2 separate regions of the Homo sapiens genome follow, and region 1 is linked to region 2. Evidence: fine-mapped expression QTL. A gene starts in region 2. The other region holds a variant in brackets. All regions are shown on one strand. Distances are between the middles of the regions. Region 1 overlaps MTUS2 (microtubule associated scaffold protein 2). Region 2 holds the start of MTUS2 (microtubule associated scaffold protein 2).

The links. PIP is the estimated chance that this variant, and not a neighbour inherited with it, causes the effect. A credible set is the group of variants that fine-mapping cannot tell apart.
Region 1: its variant is the best candidate, but not a certain one, in a credible set for the expression of MTUS2 in liver (GTEx, PIP 0.68).

Annotation. Positions count from the first base shown.
Region 1 is chr13:28,952,878-28,958,252 of GRCh38, reverse strand. All of the region lies in intron 2 of MTUS2 (microtubule associated scaffold protein 2), which reads right to left. Among named protein-coding and RNA genes, the nearest start is that of MTUS2, 140 kb to the right of the region's middle. The variant A/G (reference allele first, on the strand shown) is at 3,013.
Region 2 is chr13:28,818,372-28,823,686 of GRCh38, reverse strand. It overlaps MTUS2 (microtubule associated scaffold protein 2), which reads right to left and starts at 3,348. Exons shown (of 16, transcript NM_001033602.4): 1 at 3,076-3,348. RefSeq lists silencers at 3,374-3,443, 3,534-3,883 and an enhancer at 2,974-3,474.

The DNA of each region.
Region 1 (5,375 bases), 130 kb before region 2:
GGTGGCTCTACAAACCCACTATCCGGGGCAGCCGGAGATCACAGATAGGCTGGGAGCTGAGGATTCCAAACTACTATGCTAATTAAGCAGGAGGCACAAGTTAAATTCAGATGCCTAATAAGCACTTGGACATTTTTTCTTACTTTATTACTGTTAGAGCACAGCCAACGCTGACAATTCCAGCACAACGGGTTGCAGCACCTGTTCATTTCAGAAAAAAATGGCTGTGCTCGGAGACCATGCCCCAGGCATGTGGTTTTTCAAGGTGTCTAGGCTAGTAATTCATTAAAGGTCCACCTTACAGTTTTGTCACATGTCTCCTATCCCATGCCTATCACAAAACATAGAATGCTACATTCCTGAATTCCATAGCAAATAGAACCAATTCCTGGCATCATATTGCAGGGTTCATGCACATCTGTGCTTCTGAGAGAAAAGACGTGGTTCCCAAGAAAGAGTGTGAGTTTAGAATCAGAGAGTTCTAAATTCACCTCTGTGGCCTTGGCAAGTTACCTGAATACAGCCATCTCCCAGTATCCACAGGGCATTGGTCCCAGGACCCCCCCCTCCAGATACAAAAATCTGTGGGTGCTCAAGTGTCTGACATAAAATGCCATAGTATTTGCATCTAACCTGAGCACATCTTCCTGTATACTTTAAATCCTCTCTAGATTACTAGTAATACCCAACACAATGTAAATGCTAGATAAATAGTTGTTATTCTGTATTATTTAAGAAAGAGTGACAAGAAAAAAAGTCTGTGCATGTTCAATATAGATGCAATCCTCCTTTTTTCTGAATATTTTCAATCCACAGTTGGATGAATCCATTAATGTGGAACCAAGGGATACAGAAGACCAAAATGTAATAGAATAAGGAAAGTATCCCCCGCTTTACTGACTTATGATAAACTTTGGAGAGAAGAACCATGGTGCAAAGGAAACATGGGTATTGAATGAATGGCAAATGTCATCACTGGTATTAATTTTTTTATGTGTAAGGAAAAGATCACCTCTTCATAAAGGGAAAGGATACCAGACACTAACACCAACTGATTAGCACCCATGCTAATGGGCCAAAGTACCAAGTTGTTTCTATTCCAGTGAGAATCCAACCATTATCTCCACGTCCAGAGCTCTTTGTACACTGTGATACATCTTTTAGCACATGTGGAAAGGCAGGTGCAAGCTCCAGACTATGAAAGCATTGCTCTTTCTCTAGGGCAGCCTTCTTCCTTCTGTCCCTGCCACACTTCCTTCCCGCCAGCTCACCTATCTCTAGGGCAGCCTTCTTCCCTCTGTCCCCCAACACTTCCTTCCCACCAGATCGCCCATCTCGAGGGCAGCCTTCTTCCCTCTGTCGCCATCACACTTTCTTTCCACCAGCTCACCCATCTCTAGGGCAGCCTTCTTCCCTCTGTCCCCGCCACACTTCCTTTCCGCCAGCTCACCCATCTCTAGGGCAGCCTTCTTCCCTCTGTCCCCGCCACACTTCCTTCCCACCAGCTTATCCATACAACCTCCCCAGGACTGCCTCCCACTGCTCCCTCACTCCCTCTATCTCCCTTTAATCCTCCAAGTTACAGTGTTTGTTTCATTGGTGTTTTTGTTTCTTCCAGCTATACACACTCCCCTGAAGTTTGGGTCTTTATTATGTATGGTCTTTACCCAGTAGCCCCCTCTGCTTTCAGTGCAACCCTCCTGACCTCTCATATCTCCAATTCTACAGGATTCTATCCTTTTTGAAAAAAGAGGCTTTGGTGGGGAAGCCAACCAAGTTTTACTGGGATGTTTCATACAAAGGTGGGAAGCCAACCTCCAGTGGGGGTGGAGCAGGTAGACCAGAAGGAGCACTGGGTTGCTGCCGCCCTATTGAACTGATGTGGCACCATCTACAACCTGTGGCAGGCGAGAACCTTAAGGGAGACTCCTACCCGGTGCTGGGGATAGGAGTGAGGGTGAGGGTGGGGACTGAAAAAAGCTAGTGACAACCATGGCGGAAATGATCTTGTGACTGAATCAAGAAAATTCATCCATGTCTATGAGATTAGAGACTATTATTCTAAGTGAAGTAACTCAGGAATGGAAAACCAAACATTGTATGTTCTCACTGGTATGTGGGAGCTAAGCTATGAGGACGCAAAGGCATAAGAATGACAGAATGGACTTTGGGGACTTGGGGGAAAGGATGGGGGGGGGCAAGAGACAGAAGACTACAAATATGGTGCTGTGGATACTGCTGGGGTAACGGGTGCACCAAAATCTCACAAATCACCACTAAAGAACTCACTCACATAACCAAATACCACCTGTGTCCCAATAACTTCTGGAAATTTTTAAAAAAAGAAAATTCATCCATGTCTGGAGCAAAGCAAGGTGTCTAAAGTTCCCATGATGGTCCAAGCAGAAAGGGGCATGCCATGAAGGCCTGCAGTGGCCCCTCTTAGATCAGGACTGGCTCAGGCAGGCACTTCTCCCTGGTGCCAGGTCAAGTGGGTGCTGGAATTCTATCTGGCATGTGAGAGTGATAAAGTGTCAACCTCAACCTCCCCATAGATGACAGCAGAAAGGAATGAGGGAGACAATGGCATCTGAAGGGAGGGGGAGTAAGAAAGGATTGGCTTACAAATGAAGCTTTCATTTCAGCAGTGAAAACCATCTCAGACACGGCCATCCATTTTCCCAGACACAGACACCTAGAAAACCATCACATATATGGGTCACACTGAGCCCCTCACTTACATCAGAGACCTTTTATGGCGGCATCATTAAGCTATTTATAGTGAGCAATTAAAGAGGACCTAAGTGGGCCACCACATTCCCATCTGGCTGGCTCTGGCTAATGTGGCAATATGCTGACAACAAGATAAAGGCTTTCCTTAAATGCTGTACCACACAAAAGCTGCCTCTAGATACTTATAAATCTGCTTTTAGTTTGTATTTATATTTTATTCTTTAAAGTCAGTTCAATTATGCATGGGGTGCATTAACCATAATGCAAGCTGCATTACGC[A/G]AAACTTCACAGAAATCGTGCAATGTCAGGCTGGTATTACTGTGGGCAGGTGGCAGGGGCGCAGATGTAACATGTGGGTAAAAGACAGTGTCATAGGTTAGAAAGGGCAAAGTCTTTGGATCCTATCAGACCAGACTCTGAATAGCAGCTCTGCCAATAAACATAACCCAGTGAAAACTGGTCTCGTTACTCAGTTTTCTTACCTGTAAGACCAGGATCGATTGCTGACTCCACAGTGTTCTTGCATGGGAAGTGCCTAATGAACCTTGGCATCTGGAATTGCTCAGTAAATGGTAACTGTCTGGGGGCAGTCAACAGAGCACAGGCCAAATAAGGTCATGGTTATGAAGAGACTTCTGAATGGACTCTACTCCAACCACCCCTCGAAGTGACCTTTCCAAAACAAACTCAGCCCTATACGTAAGTCTCCCATGCTGGAGGCCCCACCTCTGATCATGTAGGGCTGATCACTCCTAACCTGATCATTCCCCTCTCTCCTCACATATCCACTTCACCAAACTATTGCACATGCGTGTGTGCTTATGTCACACACGTTCTTGGAAGGCCACCTTTTCCATTCCACCTGTTAAAATCCTACCTCTGCTTCACGGCTCCACTTCAATGATGCTCCCACACCACCACCTTCCTCCTCAGAATCTCTTAGCACTGCCCACACCCACTCCCCATATGGGCCACTATGAATACATTCCTGAATAAAGGAACACACCCTCCCTCCTAATTCTGCCCAGCTGCATTCGGTTAGGAAATGCCCCGTGTGCATGGACTAATGAGAGAAGAAACTAATGGAAGGTCACAATTTTCTTTTGTTTTTAGGTAATTAATCTTGTACCATCTGTGTCATCTGTAGTGCCTTGAAATTAAGAAGTGACCCACTGGGATATTCCCTCAGACTTGTCAGCACTTATGGTGTGAGGTCAGCAAATGACTTGACTGTCATTGTCACAGTCACTGAAATACACCAAAATGAGCCGCCACTGAGAAATTCTTCAGCAAAGATTCTGCATTTTTCTGTGGAATTTATTCGCAAATGCCATGAATATTTATCTGCATTGTTGATAAAAATGAACACACTCTGCAAATTCTTTTTTCCCCTGAAATTTTTAAAAAGTAGATATATTTTAAATATACTACTCTTTTAACAACAGAATTTAAATACCGCATTGTCATATTTTAAACTTTTACTTATACTGAGATCTATTTCTGGAGTCTCCATTCTGTTCCATTGACACATTTGTCTATCACATTGATTTTATTATAGTAGCCCTTATAGTATGTTTTAACATCTGACAAGGGAAGCCTTAACGCCCCCTTCAGTATGTTTTTGGGACTCAAATAAATGGTGCTGACACCTTTGGCTGTCTATTTGGAACAAAATTAATTTGGTCCTCTTACTTGCCCCATATGTAAAAATTACACAAAGTAATTTTACTAAAATACATAAAAGGAAAGGCTAGATGTCAAAAATAAGCCAATAGGCTCTTAAGAAGAAAATCTAGGGAGGGGACTATATGTACAACCTAGGAATGCATGGAGAGCTTATCCCACAAAACATATAAACATAATACTAAAGATACATATTTGGCTATATGGAAATTTTAAAATTTTGCAAAAGCAAAAGATATCACAAGCAAAGTTGAAAGACAAATAAAAGGCCTAAAAATATTTGCAATAAACATTTTTAAATAAAATGCTGATATCAATAGAGCTTTTGAGACAGAGTTTCACTCTTGTTGCCCAGGCTGGAGTGCAATGGCCTGGTCTCGGCTCACTGCAACCTCCACGTCCAGATTTCAAGAGATTCTCCATTCTCAGTCTCCCAAGTAGCTGGGATTACAGGTGCACACCACCATGCCCGGCTAATTTTTGTATTTTTAGTAGAGATGGGGTTTTACCATGTTGGCCGGGCTGGTCTCAAACTACTGACCTCAGGCGATCCACCCACCTCGGCCTCCCAAAGTGCAGGGATTACAGGCATGAGACACTGCGCCCAGCCTAGAGCTCTTAGTTGATAGAAAAGCAACTCAGTAGAAAAATGTGCAAAAAAAAAAAAAATGAATAGGAAATTCCCAGCAAAGTCAAGAACAAAAAGACCAAGTGTATAGAAAGCTGCTCAAACTCAACATTTCCATCCAGATGCAAAAATCATAAAGATTAGCACTTATTGCTAACAGAGATGTCAAGAAAGGGGCATTCTCACAAATTGCTAATGGCAACTGTTAAAAAAATTTTAGAAGCAATCTGGCAATAGCTATTGCTAAAGGTACATTTTAATGAGATCCCACTGTAACACTTTTTAAAGTAAAAATACCAGTACAAAAAGAATGTACAAATACGTTTATTAT
Region 2 (5,315 bases):
AATCCGTTGGAGGGTGGGAGCACAGACAAAATTGTTTGTGTTGAAAGCTGCAGTTCTTACGGGCCAAGGTTGAGGCCCAGTTGAGAAGAGGGCTCAGGGGAGCCTGACTAAAGTTTGGTCAAAAAGAGAGTCTCTGTGGATGGGTGGGTGGATGGTAGATAGATGACTGATGGATGGGTAATTGATAGACAAGGTATACCCGTTGGTGGGAAGGGTCAAGATGATAAGATCTAAAGGCATCCAAATTCACATAGGAAGTAGAAATCATTTCAGAGAAAAGGGGAAACTCCTTGACTCTTTTCAACAACTCGTTTCAAACATGTGTGTGGTAGATATTATAAGCCTCCCACTTGCTCATAAAAACTGCTAATGGGAACAAGCAGATACTCATCTAGTCCTTCCAAACCTGCATTTGTTTCCTGTAGGATATTTTCGAGGAATGAGTTTGTTTGCTTACTGTTGAAAATTCGTATTAGAGACCAATCCTGAGCTTACAGAAGGATCTCCTATGGAGCTGATGCTATCTGTTCCTATTAACATTTTATTAATGAAGCATCTTTCAATAGTTTTCCTTCCTTTCCCCTTGGCATCCTGCCTCTGAGAGGAGGAAGAGCTTTAACCCACTTTCCTCCCTTCCCCAACCCGTTTCCACTCTTCTCCACCTCCAGCTCACACACTGATCCAAAACAATCCCATGTGTGTGCGATCACGAGGCAAAGAGCTAGTTCTCCAGGTATGTGCCTGATTTCAGTGGCTCTATACAGCCCTAGGTTATAGCAGTTTGCATTTTCTCAGCAAGTCAACTATGATATTGTACAGATTTTTTTCATCTTTTCAGATGACAAAAATTAAACTAAGAATAGGCAATTTTATAAGTTAATACTTGAACACAGGTTTGAAGACAGGGATAGATTCAGGGTCTGTGGAACCTTGGGTTTATATAATTGGGGGGTGGGAATATAGAAAGAGTACTCTCCTTATTTAAAAAAAAAATCCAAAAGTACAAATACAAACTCAGGGATGACCACATGAACACACTGCCAGTGCCCCTCCCAGAGGGCTCCAAAGAAGCCTCTGTGACGGAGGGACCTGAGGCTTAGGTTCATTAGCTCCCCAGTCGATCTGCCTCTGCTGGAGATAGAAAGGACTAGAGAGGTTTCTGCCACAGCATTCAAATCTCTAGAAAATCGCTAAGCATAACAGTCTTCTATTACATCAATCCCCCAGATGCTATTCTTACCTCTCTTTCACAAACCACCATCCCTGCTGTTCCCTCCAATTTGGCAACAGCAATTCATTATAAAAGTGCGTATGCCGGAGTGGGTTTCGGCATCCTCCTGGATTTTGGCTTTAACAGTCTAGTTCCGTGTCAATTATGTAATAGCCCAAACAGGGAGTTTAATGGAGTACCAAAAGCACAGTCATAGCTCTTACATAAGCCTTCATAAACCATCCATAAGATCTGCTCCTAGATTTGGATATTTGGGATTACATAAGGGAGACAGAAAACACTGACTCAGAGGCCAGGTTTCTTTCTGACCTTAAAAACAATAAAAACTTTTTGCACTTAATTTACTAGTTTATAGTAAAAGTTTTTAATTTGATATGGAAAATAATCTTTCCTATGACTTACTTTACCGTGTAAACATAAATGAATATCCTGCCACTACTACTCAACTTTCATTGGTACTTCTGCAAATGAAATATATCACTTAAGATTCCCGTAAGTATTCTACATGGAATTATGGGTCCCTAATAAACATCAACTACTCTTCGCAGGAAAATCAAGAAAGAGCATTTAGACAAAACACAAAAGTCTACATGCTGTAATTCTCTGATGTGTCCCCTTTCCAATACCATTTTTTTCTTCCCATGTTTCTAACAACGTATTTTTGACTTACCTTAAACCACTGTAGCAACACCATAGGCTACAGAAAGTGACAATACAATGCTCCACAATGGGTCTCACCCCTGGCTACACGTTAGAATCACCAGGAAAGCTTTTTAACATTACAGGTATCAAGGTATCAGCCCAGACCAATTAGAACAGAATACTGGGTGGAGGAGGGACAAGGGCTGTTCCCAGCCATCAGTATATCTGATGTTTTCTACTTTTGTATTTTTACCTGAAAAAAATAGCCATAAATGTGAGTACTGGTTTTGGGGCCTGGGGAAAGGGAAGGGAAAGAGAGACACATCTTTAATAACTGGCAACTCACAATTACTAAGTTTCCATCAGAGATAAAAATAAAATCATTCAATAGTTTGAAAACTAGAAAGTATACATGTAGGATCTTTTTATCAATAAGTAGTCAAAGAATTCTCACCAATTCCTAATAGACTTTACAAAACCAATTTTTTAATGCTTTACAATTATACCTAATGACTTTTTTAATATAGGGTCCTATATTATCTTAAAAGGGTACCTCAAGCTAAGACCACTGCTTATCTCCAAGTAAACTAAAAGCATGACACTCTCTTCTTAGGTGCTCTGGTAATCACACATAACTTTACCAATGAGCAAATTTTTTTAAGCATTTATATAACAGAGAGTACAGGCGCCTTTGGTATCCTGCCAAGAGTACTTCTTTCCGTGTTTGTATTTAAAATAGAATGGTAGTAACATCACTTGTGTGCCTGTAATTCCTTCTGTGCACAGGCACAGAATGAAAAAAAAAAATGGATGTAGCAAGCCGCTTCACTGCTTTACCATTATAAAGCTTGAAGGAAATAACACACTCATACTAAATTAAGACGAAGACTCAGACCAAATTATCCAAAGCTGGGGGTGGGTAGGGGAGAACTCGCCTTAACTAACCTACCAACGCCTCTAAAGCAGTGGGTGTTGAACCTGGCAGCAAGCGAAGGTGCCAAAAGAGCTGCAGTCCCTAAGCCAGAGCAGGTGATGTGGGCAGGAAGCATCAGCGCTCTGGAGACGAGAAGCCGAACCAGCCCGGCGCTGCCCCGAGCCCGGCTGCGCGCTCCCCAACTCCGCTCACCTGTCTCCGGCGGGTCCAGAGGGCGGCAGCAGAGCCAGCCGACCCCACCGGACCGCGCAGCAGAGGATTCGCTCACCTGGGTCAAAAAGAGCCAAGAAAGATGTAATGTCCAAGAGGCCACCACTGCCCTCACGGAGACGCTCATCTCGGGCCGGGTTCCGCCACGCTGCTTCCTCCTCCTCTCCAGCTCGAGTTTTCTATTTACCGACAGGTCTGTACTCCGCTAAGCGGTCAAGGGTTTCCGCAGAAGGGGGGAGATAAACTTGCCCTGAGAGCCGGCGGCGGCGGCGCAGGTGGAGCGCGAGGGGCGCCCCCGCACCTGGAGCCGCCGGCGCTCGCTATCACCTCTGCCCGCCCACGCCCGCGCCGCGGCTGCGCTCCGCTCCGCGCCCCCGCACTCACCTCGGCGCAGGCACCGCCCAGGCCGCCGCCCCCGCTCGAGGGCCGGGGCGCAGCCGGGGACCGGAGCCGCCCGCACGACGCCCAGGCGCTCCCGGCTCCGCCGCGGCCGCGGCTGCTCCTCCAGCCGCCTCGCCTGGACAAAGAGAAGCCGCGGGGCCGGCGGCCGCCCAGCCCAACCTTCGCAGCGCGCCACGCAGCCGGCGCGCCTCGCCCGCGAGGTGCCGTCCGCGGTGACAGTGGCCGGGCGGCGAGCGGGCCCGAGCGGTAGGCGGCGCGGGGCAGCTGATGCGCGCACCCCCTCCCGGCCGCCCGGAGACGCACTCGCCGAGACCCAGGCGCCTCCTCCCGGCCCGCGCTCCGCGCCCCGCGCCCCGCGTCGCAGCTCCGCAGCCGGGAGCCGTAGCGCCCTCTGCCGACGGCCCCTGCGCCCGCTCCTGCGCGCGCGCCTGCCCGCCCCAGCCCCAGCCCCAGCCCCAGCCCCAGCCCCAGCCCCAGCCCCCGCCCCCGCCCCAGCTCCCGCCTCAGCCCCAGCCCCAGCTCCAGCCCCAGACCCAGACCCAGACCCAGCCTCCGCAGGCGGTGGGCGCGGCGCGGGCCGCTGCCCGCTGCGCGGCTGGTCACCGTGGTGCCCTAGCATCGGACCCCAGGAGAAAGGAGTAAGAATGAGTTGGCCGTTCCAGGGCAGGCCTCCAGGAATGGGTTCCGCTGTTTTCCGCTCAGAACAGAAGAGGGAGCCGCTTCGAATTAGGCGCAGCAGGAGGCATTGGGGTTCAGCATCGGGAAGAACTTTGGAGGACGCTAGGGTGCCTGATTCATAGGAGCCCAAAGCCAGTCTCTGAAAAGATTTGCGCAAAAGGCAGGCGTTTCTTTCTAGAAGCAAGCTTATTTCTATGTTTAATGAGCACCAAATGTGCCTCCCCACTGTCCGAGGGGTTCCAGCGAGCCTTGACTGCTCTTATGGTAAGGTAAATAGATTAATTAATGATTTCTCAAAGACCTTTTTCCAGTCCTACCTGAAATGCTCAGACTCCCTCACGCGGTGCACCTGGAGGTTTGAAAAGGCAAGCGAAACCAGAGGACTTCTGCAGACTGATTCAAACAGCAATGGAATAAACATTTACCATTATAAAGATGAAACGATGTTGCTGGTCTTTGCACTATTTAGGTTGGCGTTTTTTGTTTTTAGGGGATGTCTTTCCAAACCACTGTGTTAACCAATACTTTATGACAGTTAATTTTTTTTTTTAACCAACTGGACTACTTGGTGAAGGGAAATCATGAAATGGCACTTTTTTTTTTCAGACCACTGTCTTTAAAAATTATTCCAGAAGCTCTCCCTTCTCCCCTGGAAGAATCTGGGGCAAATTTCATAGCTTTTCCTGTCACTTTCAGGTGTTCATAAACAGTCAGATTTGCTGATAATAAAAAGTCCAGCCCAATCCAAATCAAAACTTTAATCGCAATCCATTCAAGCCTTCCCCACTAGCCTCCCACCACCCACCAGACCCCAACCTGACCCAAGCTCAGAAGCCTGCAAGGAGGAGGAAAACGACCTTCGCTTCCTGCTTCTGTGTTCTCCCCAGCTAGCTCTGTGAAGACGGGTTCCACCGCCGGGCACGGAGGCTCACGCTTGTAATCCCAGCACTTTGGGAGGCTGAGGCCGGTGGATTACTTGAGGTCAGGAGTTCGAGACCAGCCTGGCCAACATGGTGAAACCCTGTCTCTACTAAAAATACAAAAATTAGCTGGGTGTGGTGGCGTGCACCTGCAATTCCATCTCCTCAGGAGAATTGCTTGAACCTGGGAGGTGGAAGTTGCAATGAGCCGAGATCATGCCACTGCACTCCAACTGGGCGACAGAGCAAGCCTCTGTCAAAAAAAGAAGCCGGATGCGGTGGCTCACGCCTATAATCT